Regions from separate parts of the Homo sapiens genome. Here region 1 is linked to region 2. Evidence: fine-mapped expression QTL. A gene starts in region 2. The other region holds a variant in brackets. All regions are shown on one strand. Distances are between the middles of the regions. Region 1 overlaps CCM2 (CCM2 scaffold protein). Region 2 holds the start of MYO1G (myosin IG).

Evidence for each region. PIP is the estimated chance that this variant, and not a neighbour inherited with it, causes the effect. A credible set is the group of variants that fine-mapping cannot tell apart.
Region 1: its variant is the best candidate, but not a certain one, in a credible set for the expression of MYO1G in whole blood (TOPMed, PIP 0.57).

Annotation. Positions count from the first base shown.
Region 1 is chr7:45,044,397-45,049,775 of GRCh38, forward strand. All of the region lies in intron 2 of CCM2 (CCM2 scaffold protein), which reads left to right. Among named protein-coding and RNA genes, the nearest start is that of NACAD, 42 kb to the right of the region's middle. The variant T/C (reference allele first, on the strand shown) is at 2,243.
Region 2 is chr7:44,976,203-44,981,581 of GRCh38, forward strand. MYO1G (myosin IG) reads right to left here and starts at 2,813. Exons shown (of 22, transcript NM_033054.3): 1 at 2,665-2,813; 2 at 661-869; 3 at 362-455. The coding sequence starts at 2,759. RefSeq lists a silencer at 2,756-2,845 and enhancers at 3,046-3,115, 3,146-3,195, 4,423-4,552.

The DNA.
Region 1 (5,379 bases), 68 kb after region 2:
AGGTGCTGGGATTACAGGTGTAAGCCACCACGTCTGGCCCAGCTGTAGTTTTTATATTACGTTCTGAGTTCCATCTATAGCCCACTTGCTTCTGAGGCATCTCCAGGATGAGATTCAAAGGAGGGAAACCCCAATTGCTGTAAGTTCCCCATCTTGACTCTTGACTTCCTTACAGCATAAACTACACTTCTGGTCCTCAAGATTTAGCCCAATTTGACTGGGCTGTCTTTTTATGTTCAGTAGAATTAGACTATATCACAGAACCACCAAACATTTTTTACTAGTTTATGGAGAGAATTACCATTTTCTAGAGGTAGGGAAGAGACATTAGTGACCTCATATGGCAAATTACTATGGAGAATATAATTATTTCCAAATTTTCCTAGAACCATAATACTTTGTGATTGTTACAGTGATTCTTATTTTCCTTCCTTCCTTCCTTAGACCTCTTAAGTATACCCTATAATATGATTTTTAATTCAAAAGTTATTAAAATTTTGTTTTGAAGATTTCATAACTAAACTCTAACCGATCCCCAAGATGACTAGAAAAGCCTCTTGGTTTTACAAAACTAGTTTGGATAGTGCTGTTCTGAAGGTATAATAGAAATTGGTGAAATTATTTGTGGCCTGTCTTTGTGTTCTTGCTGTATCAATATTTGTATCTTATCAGATACCTTTACATATGTCTAGCCTTTTCTTTCTATCTGACATTAACTTATTCAACAAATATATGTTGAACACTTGCTCCACTATCGTTATAGCTGCTAGGTGCAGCTAGAAGTGACAGCTGATAGAGCAATTTCTTTAGAGTAGTTTGTGCAGTTTCAGTTGAAAAATCAGCGCCTGGTTTCCATTCAGGCCCTGCTATTGTGCATGGGAACTTGAATCACCTTGGAACTTTTGTATTGATTTCCATAAATGGGAAGTTAGATGAATTGCTTAATAATACCATATGTTTGCAGAAATAAAAGAAAAATCACCGCTTAAAAAAATGTAATCCATCATATTAACAAGCTAAAGAAGAAAAATCACATAATTATATCAATCAGTGGCAGAAAGTTTATTTGACAAAATTCAGCACCCATTCTTGATTAAAAACTCAGACAAATGGGGCTGGGTGCGGTGGCTCACGCCTGTAATCCCAGCACTTTGGGAGGCCGAGGCAGGTGGATCACAAGGTCAGGAGATCAAGACCATCCTGGCTAACATGGTGAAACACTGTCTCTACTAAAAATACAAAAAATTAGCCGGACGTGGTGGCGGGTGCCTGTAGTCCCAGCTACTCGGGAGGCTGAGGCAGGAGAACAGCATGAACCCGGGAGGCGGAGCTTGCAGTGAGCCCAGATCATGCCGCTGCACTCCAGCCTGGGTGACAGAGTGAGACTTTGCCTCAAAAAAACAAAACAAAACAAAACAAACTCAGACAAACAAGATATGTTTTTGAACAATGAATATGTGGATATCAAAATTAAATCAATACCATTCACAATCACTTAAAAAATGAAACACGGGTATAAATCTTACAAAACATGAATAAGATTTGTATGCTGAAAACTATAGAACACTGATGAAAGAAATCAAAGATCTGAATAAGTGGAGAGACACACTGAATTCATGGATTGGAAGACTCAACCTAATTAGTATGTTACTTGTCCCTAAGTTGATATAAATGGACCAACTCCTTGAAAAGCACAAACTACTACTACAAGTCATCCAATATGAAATAATTTGAATAGCTTGTAACTATTAAAAGTGAATTCTACAATTCCTATCAAAATTTCAGCAAGAATTTTTTGTAGATATAAACAAGACTATTCTTAAAGTGCAGTGGCACGATCTTAAATTTCAAGCTATTCTTGAAATTTAAATGGAGAGGCAAAATAAGTAGAATAGCTAATAATAATTTTGAAAAAGAAGAAAATGAGAAGAGTCAGCCTGTCTGATTTCAAGATAGATCATACTGCTATCACAATCAAGACTGTGGTATCTGCAGAGGGACTGACACAGAGATCAGGGGAGCAAAATGAACTAGAAACAGATCCACACATATATGCCCAGCTGATTCTTGACAAAGGTTCATAAGCAATTCAGTGGAGAAGGGATAGGATAGCCTTTTAACAAATGGTGCTGGAGCAGTTGGACATTTGTAGGCAAAAATTGAACCTTGCCCTGAATTTCACAACTTAAACACAAAAATTAACTCAAAATGGATCATAGGCTTAAATATAAAATACAACTTC[T/C]AGGATAAAACATAGAAAATCTTCAGGATGCAGGGCTACGCAGAGTTCTGAGACTTGATACCTAAAGCATAATTCATAAAAGAAAAAACTGATAAACTGGACTTCATCAAAATTTAAAACTCTTGCTCTATAAAAGACAATGAAAACATATGCTACAGACTGAGAGGAGATATTTTTAAACCACATATCTGACAGAGGGTTGGTATCTACAGTATATAAAGAACTCTCAAAACTCAACAGTAAAACAAACAATCCGATTAAGACATAAGCAAAAGACAGGAGGAGATACTTCAATGAAGAGGATATACAGATGGCAGTAAGCACATGAAAATATGCTCAGCATCATTAGCCATCAGGGAAATGCACATTAAAACCATAATGAGCTGCCAATACACACCTAACAGAATGTTTAAAAAAAGTAGAACACAAGATGCTGGAGAAGATGTGGAGGAACTGGACCCCTCATTCATTGCTGGTAGGGATGTAAAATGGTACCGCCACTCTAGAAAGCAGTCTGGCAGTTTCTTCAAATCTCCACGTGCAACTACGAACAACTTGGCAATTGCACTCCTAGGCATTTATCCCAGGGAAATGAAAATTTATGTTCACATGAAAACCTGCCTACTAATATTCAAAACAGTTGTATTCATAGTAGCCCAAAACTGGAAACAACTCCATGTCCTTTGGTGGATAAATGGTTAAACAAAATGAGGTCCATCCATGCCACAGAAGACTATTCAATAATACAAAGGGCTGGGCATGGTGGCACCTGCCTGTAGTCCCACCTACTGGGGAGGCTGAGGCTGGAGGATTGCTTGAGCCCAGGAAGTCCAGGCTGCAGTGAGCCATGATCATGCCACTGTGCTCCATCCTGGATGACAGTGAGACCCTGTCTTAAAGCAACAACAAAGGAACAAACTACACAGCAACCTGGATGGGCCTCCAGAGAATTATGTTGAGTGAAAAAAGCCGTTCCTAAAGGTTTCACACTGTATGTTCCTTTCTGTAACATCTTTGAAATGACACAGTTGCTGAGGTGGAGAACAGATTAGGGTTTGCTAGGGGTGGAGAGAAGTAGGTGTGCCTATAAAGGGCAACAGGAGGGGTCCTCACAGTGATGGGTGCTCTGGCTGTGTTTACATCCATGTCCTGGTGTGATGTGCTGTAGTTCTGCAAGATGTCACTGCTGGGGGCAATAGGGTAAAGGGAGCGATGGATCTCCCTGTATCATTTCTTATAATAAGAGAATTTACAATTACCTTAAAATAAAAGTTTAATTATAAAGAAATTGCAATTTGACTACTACTTGGCATGTCAGTGAGAGAATGTAGATAATAAAATGATGTAAAAACTAAGTAATGATTAAGAAAAATTATCTAAGTTGTAAGAAAAGAGAGGGAAAGTGGGAATGGTGATACAATTGGAAGTCAATATCTTAAATTGATAAGCAATAGGAATATAAGCCCATTATTTAGAAAAATGGCTCTAGATCCTAGAAGAATCAGAAGACTTCAGTGTGGCTGCCTCTTGGAAGTGGTTTGTGGATGGGGTTGTCCCAGTTAGTAAAGGAGATTGTTGTTGTTTTGTTTTACAATTTTTTGAACTTTATTTGCCTTTTTAAACTGTATACATTTCATAAAATAAAAACAATCACAATAATAAAATCCACCAGTGATAGGAGACATTTAATCCCACATACTCCAGTGTGGTGTTTATGGGAAGTATTTTGTTTTTAGAATGAACATTAATGAACAAGTTGAGAGGGATTTAATAGTAGCTTCTGTTTTGGAATGCTTACTGTGTGCAGCAACACTATTTAACATTTTAAATATATTTTTCTCATTTAATCTTCACAAAACCTTCATAAAGTAGAAACATTCCTCTGGGAGGCCGAGGCAGGCGGATCACGAGGTCAAGAGATCTAGACTATCCTGGCCAACATGGTGAAACCCCATCTCTACTAAAAATACAAAGATTAGCTGGATGTGGTGGTGTGCACCTGTAGTCCCAGGTGCTTGGGAGGCTGAGGCAGGAGATTCGCTTGAACCCAGGAGGTGAAGGTTGCAGTGAGCCGAGATTGTGCCACTGCACTCCAGGCTGGTGACAGAGCAAGACTGTCTAAAAAAAAAAAAAAATTCTTTCTGTAGTTTCCATCACAAGCTGACATTTTCCCCAGTAGGATTTGGTGCAGTGCAAGGCTCACGTGGGCTCACCTAGTGACTATGAATGGACTCATAGCAGGCTTGCTGTGTGGTTTTAATAATGGGACAGGGTAATTAATCACATTTGTGATAACAAACCCAAGAAGCTCTTCTCAGATTTGTTATTATTTTTTGAGACAGGGTCTCACTCTGTCACCCAGGCTGGAATGTAGTGACACAGTCATGACTCACTGCAGCTTCAACTTCCCTGGGCTCAGGTGATCCTCTCACCTCAGCTTCCTGAGTAGCTGGGACCACATGTTGCACCATCACACCTGGCTAATTTTTGTATTTTTTTGTGGTGATGGGGTCTTGCCATGTTGCCCAGGCTGGTCTCGAACTCCTGTGCTCAAGCGATCCTCCTGCCTCGGCTTCTCAAAGTGATAGATTACAAGTGTGAGCCACCATGTCCGGCCTATTATTTATTTTTATCTAATTGAATATGTAATTTATGTACATGGTTCAAAATTCAAATGATAACAGAGATTCTTGGTGAAAAGAAATCATGTGCACCCTCCGTGGGAGGAATTGCTGACACCAGCTTCTTGTGTCTTTACAGTCTGTCCATATATGAGCTTACACATGCATTTGTTTCCCAAATGATTACACGGTATACACTGTTTGCACCTTGCTTTTTACACTGAACAGTGTATCTTGATTTATCGCCGAGTGTTCACATTAGCACACATAAAACTGCCTCGTCCATTTTAATGGTTGCATGATATTCCATTAGATAGCTGTGTCATATTCTATTTAACCAGTGATTTATTAATACATATTTAATTTATTTTCAACTGTTATGTATGTTTTACTGTACCTATAGGATAAATTACAAAAGTGGAGTTTCTAGATCTAAGGCTAGGTTACTTTTTAATTTGACAGACATTTCCAAATTGCTCTTCATAAAGGGTTGAAGTCAGTGCATACGTGAGGACT
Region 2 (5,379 bases):
GCCTGCCAGCTTCTCCAGGTTTCCATGGAATCTGCCTGCTGCCCTGTCCATGAGCCATTTCAAGCATCTCTGGGCCCTGCTGCACTTCTCCTCATCCTACCTGTGGCTGCTGCCTCCTCCCAGCTGGTAGGCCCAGTACCTTGGCTAGGTCTCACCCACCCAAGGAGAGGTCCTTGGCATGGGTCACCCTGTCTCACCTCCGGGTGTGTTGGCATTATCTGGAAACTTCCCAAGTTCCCACTGAACTTGACCTGAGCTAGACTCCAGTTGCCGTCTCTCACTCCCCAGAGCCAGCCCTTCCTGCCACACTGAGGTCCCTGGCCTGCCATGCTGAGGCCCAGAGCTGCCCATTGCCACTCACCTCTCCACCTCAGCCCTCTGGCTTGGATTGGTGACAGCAGCGATGTACTGCATGATGTGCTTACTGGCTTCTGTCTTCCCTGCCCCACTCTCCCCTGCCGGAAAGACCAGAGTTGAGAGAATCAGCCAGGTTCGCTCTCTTAGCCCAGCTCCCTGTGCCCACTCACACCCCCAAGACTGGCAAGATGGGGTCCTAGGGCCCCCATCAGGACACAGGGCACAGGAGATGCTCTAATGGCCCTCCCAAATGTTCACAAATGAAGATGCCGAGGGTGGGGGCCCGGCGGCAGGGACAGGTACCTGAGATGACGATGCAGGTGTCCCTGGACCGGTGCTTCATTGCCTTGTAGGCGGCGTTGGCCACAGCATAGAGATGGGGTGGCCGCTCATAGAGCTCACGGCCCTGGTACCTGGCGATGGCCTCAGGCCCATACAGGGGCAGCTCCTGGTAGGGGTTCACGGACACCAGCACCTCACCGATGTAGGTGTAGATGCGGCCCTTCTCGAACCTGGACACAGCAGGGGTAGGCCTCAGCACTCACAGGCTTACAGGCACCCACAGGCCTTTCGCCAGAGCCCATATCAGGGCCTGGCCCCAGTAGGCCAGCGCTCCCACCCTGACGGGCTGAGAGTGGAGAAGGAAGAAGGGGGCAGGTGTTGACCTTGCGTCTCCCTGGTGCCATCCTGGGTGAGCTGAGCCACTCAGAGACTGTCTCCATTGCGGCATAGAGTTTGGGGTCCACAGTGGTCTCCCCAGGGATCCCAAGGTCACTGGAAACATGACCACTCATTTTGCAAAGGAAACAGACTTGCCCAAGACTGCACTGGGTGCCGTGAGTCAGGGCTGGCTCCTGGGGTGAACCCCGCAGGGCAGATGGGGAGATGGGGTTGAGAAGTGACTGGGCTGGGAGGGGAAGGAGGGGCCTCCTCGGCTGTTTCCTGTCTCAAGGCCTGGGCGGGAACCCAGAGACAAAAGGGGACCCCACCCAGCCCCACCCAGATGACAGGGAGGGAGTTGATGTCGTTGTCTTTACACCCCCGACCCCCCAGCCTGTGGCCAGTGGCTGCTGCCTCTCCCCTGGCACAGCCTCAGACTTCTTGACCCTTTCCTTCACAAACCTGGTCCCCAGTGGGGGTGGATGTCTGCCCTTCTCTTGACCTTTCTGCCCCTGGGAGGAGGACTGGCAGGCCTGCCCCTCAGACCCATCTCCCCTTGGTGTGTGGTACCCACCCTTCCCTGGATGGCCCTGTCTCCCGGCAGCCTGTCCTGGGTGGGCCTGTCCTGAGGTTCCTCTTTCTCCACCACCTCTGACATGGGTTTTCCTGGGCCTAGCTCCCATCCTCCTACAAGCTGGGGATGAGGGCACAAGTCACCCACGTCTCCAGGGCTCAGTGTTCTCCTCATCAAAATAGAGAGGACAATGTTTCATAAGCTCATTTTATAAGAATGAGGTAGAACAATGTGCACAAAGTGCTTAGCTCACGTCCTGGCTAGCCCTCCTCTTTGAGCCAGGCTCGTGGTCTCTTGCCTTCGGTGCTTAGTGGGGATCCTGGTCCCCAAGCTCTCCCCAGGGAGCTTCCGGAGTACACAGCGAGTGGCCTTCTGCCCCTCCCTGGGAGTCCTGGCAGGAAGCCCAGCTGCCTGTATGGCCACCCTACTGTGCCATGCCCCTACCTCCCGGGCTTCTCCCTGCCCTCCACCTGCCCTCCTTGATGGTAAATTGGGCTCCAATATCACTTCTACCAACTGTGTCCTGTGATACTCCATGTACCCCAGGAGAATGTCACCTCAACTTGGTGGGAATGTTTGGACCCTAGGGTGGAGCCTGACTGCTTCATCTCAGTGTCCCCAGGGCTCAGGCCAGGCCCCATGGATGAGATGCATCGAGGGAGCATCAACAACTGGCTGGGAAGTGGCTGGAGGGAGGTGCCCCTGGTCCCTCCTGGAAAGATAGTGCCTGGTATGTATCTGTCCAAGAAGTGTCATGCCCTGGCCCCGTCGGGCAGGAAAGAAGGGGCAGAAGATGCCTGGACTGTGTGGGAGGCAGGGGTGGGTTGAGGTGGTGGGCAGCTCCGGTGCTGACTTGCCAGCCCTGACAGGGACAGTTGCCTCCTTGTCTGTTCCTGTCCCCTGGGGCCGTGCTTTGAGGCACTCATTTCAGCCCCATCTGGTCTGGGTGGGTGTGTGCCACTGCCCCCTCCCTTGGACAGCAGCGTGCCTTCCTCTTTCCCTCAGGTCTCTGCGAGGACGCAAGGTGGGAGACCCTGGAGGAGGGGAGCCACTGCCTCCTGCCCTGGGCCTACCTGAGCTGCAGGTTCCTCATGAAGTCCTCCATGGTCACTTGGTCCAAAAGCACAAAGTCAGGTTTGCCATACTCAGGGCCTTCCTCGTCCTCCATCCTGCCGGCTGGAAACACCTTGCCTCACCTTCCTGTGCCTGCTGGAAGGACAGTGAAGGAGAGGGGGAGGGAAGGCTAGGGGAGGCCCCACCGCCCCCGCCCTGCCCCACCAGCCTCCTCCAGTGCTGGTGTAAAGTAGGAAGTGGGTTCTAGTCCTGGGAGGGGCTGCCCTCCGCACTTGCCACTCCTTCCCCCTCGAGGTGCTCTAAACCCTGCTTCCTGTCCCTGCGCCCCACAAGGAGGCTGTGCCTAACGGTCTGACCCGTTTGCACGCCAGGGGCGAGGGGCCGGATGCTGGGTCCTCCCCGCTTTGGAGGGTTCTTCGCTGGCCTCCTTCGGAAGCTCCCCTCCACCCACAAGCAGGAGACAAGACTCCGTGGGTTGGCTTCCAACCCTGGCAGCACGTTAGAGTCACTTGTGGGACTTTAAAGAAAGATTTTTTGACGTGATCTTGGTTACCTGGCTGTGTGTGTCTCTCAAGTCAGAACTGAACACTAGATGCAATATACTGTATGTACATTGTACATTAATACAAAAATGAAAAAGGATCCTAATGCCCAGGCCTTTGGGGTGGGGGCAACAGCCTTCTTTGCAGTGTGAAGGCCACACTGGGGTGTAGACGAGCAAAGCTTCTTGTGTGACCTGCCAAGGGCCAGTGGTCCTAGCACTGCAATTCCCCACCCCAGCCACGGGGGAGGGACAGAGGACCCCAGAGCATCCTCTGCATGGGGCTGGCCTTCAGTGGGACCCCTGTGCCCCTAACTGTCCTCTGCCTTGTACTTGTGTCCAGCCGATCCCCCATAAACTGCAGTGAGGACCAGGAACATGCCTGGAGCCCTGTGGCCTCATCTCAGAGCTGCTGTCCCTGCACTTTGAAGATGAGGCAGCGCATTTGGGGAGCGGCTGCATTTAGGGAGTGGCCAAAATCTCCAGACACTGCATTCCTGACACTTAGTGCTCCTGGAAGAAGTGGGAGGGGTGCAGTTCTCTTAGCTTCCAGGCAGACTGGAAAAAGTTCTTTTTCATCCCAGGACAGACTGGGGCAGGTCACACCCATCCTCTAGGAACACTGGGGCGATTCTCTCATCAAAGGTCAAATGGATGCAGTTCTCTCTCATCCTACAAATAGACTGGTGACATTTCTCTTTCACCCCTTCCCTCATACAGGGAGGTCAAAGGGCAGACTCCAGAATTCCCAAACTTCAGTCATTCATGTGCTGCCTTTGAGATTTGTTGTACTCATAAGCACTAGTTTAACTATTGTCTTTCAGTCATCCCATTTTTTAAACTTTGAAGTAATGGATAGGCAAGTTAAGTTTATTTTTTTCTCTCGAATACCTTAAAGCAAATGCATTCCTGATAAAACTGAAAGTACTTATTCAAGTACCTAATAAAACTGAGTCACGCACCACTGCAATAAGGGGCCACTGGCCTGAAAAATCCCCAAATTTGTAAGTGGGCAGCCTCTGGCTCCACCCTGGGCCAGACCTGGGGCTCCTCTTGGGCAAATTCAAAGTCAGTCCTTCGGAACTCTGACAAGTGTGGCCTCCTCCCCACCCCCAGGCTCTTGGGCTGGTGCTTTTGAAGGGTTTCCCAAACCTACACTCAAGTCTGGGAATTCTCACCCAGACTCTTGCCAGCTCATCTGTCTTTTCAAGTTTCACTTCCCCAACCCCCAGGGAGTCAAGCCAACCAGTGGAACCAAGATGGCTGTATTCCAGTAAAACGTTAAGGACACCGAAATCTGAACTTCGCAAACTTTTCATCTGTCACGTAATCATACTATTTTGGGTATTTCCCCCACCACTAACCACTTAAAAATGTCAAGACCACTCTTAGCTCAGAGATTTGGCTGGTGGGAGGAGTTTGCCCGCCCTTGCTTTAGCTGCTGCTGGTTGCTGGGACCCTGGGCGTCCTTCCTTGGTAGTTTGCACAAATTTGCCATGCATTGCCTCATTTGATTCTCATGACACATGTAGGAGTTACTGTTATTTTCATTTTACATATATTAAAACCGAGGCTGAGATGACATCACTACAAAGGAAGTTCCCTCCTGGGTCAACAGACCTCTGGGCCCTTATAGCACTGAATTCAGTGGGTCCTACTCAAATCCCAGGGAAAAGTCGGTCAGTCAGAGTCACGGCCTGGTCCTCAGAAGGGAGGACAAATGGTAGCTCTATCTGCAGCTTCCCCAGGGCATGCTCCTTACAGGGTATGACTGGTAGAACAGGTAGATGAACAAAGGCAGAGGCTCCTAATGGAAGGACAGCAAGGAGGGGCCACCACCAACTCAAGCCTGGCAGGGGCTGAGGAAACCATCCTGGCCCCAGTGAGTTTCCCTCTCATTATCTCATCTGGATCAGTTTCACAATGCCTGCCTCCACCAGGGCTCCTACGGCTGCACCTGCAGGTCCCTTGCCCTCACCCTCCTCGTTGCAACCTTCAAATCCCAGGCTTGCTCTGTTGGTGCTGACCTTGCAGCAAATCCCCAGCCCCAGAAAAATGTCCCCTTTCAGGGGAGTTGCTTTTTCGGCTCTACACAACTGTACCATAACTTAGTATTTCTATTAAAAATTTTTTTTTTTTACCTCATCTGAGGTGATACCATTGGGCTAATTGT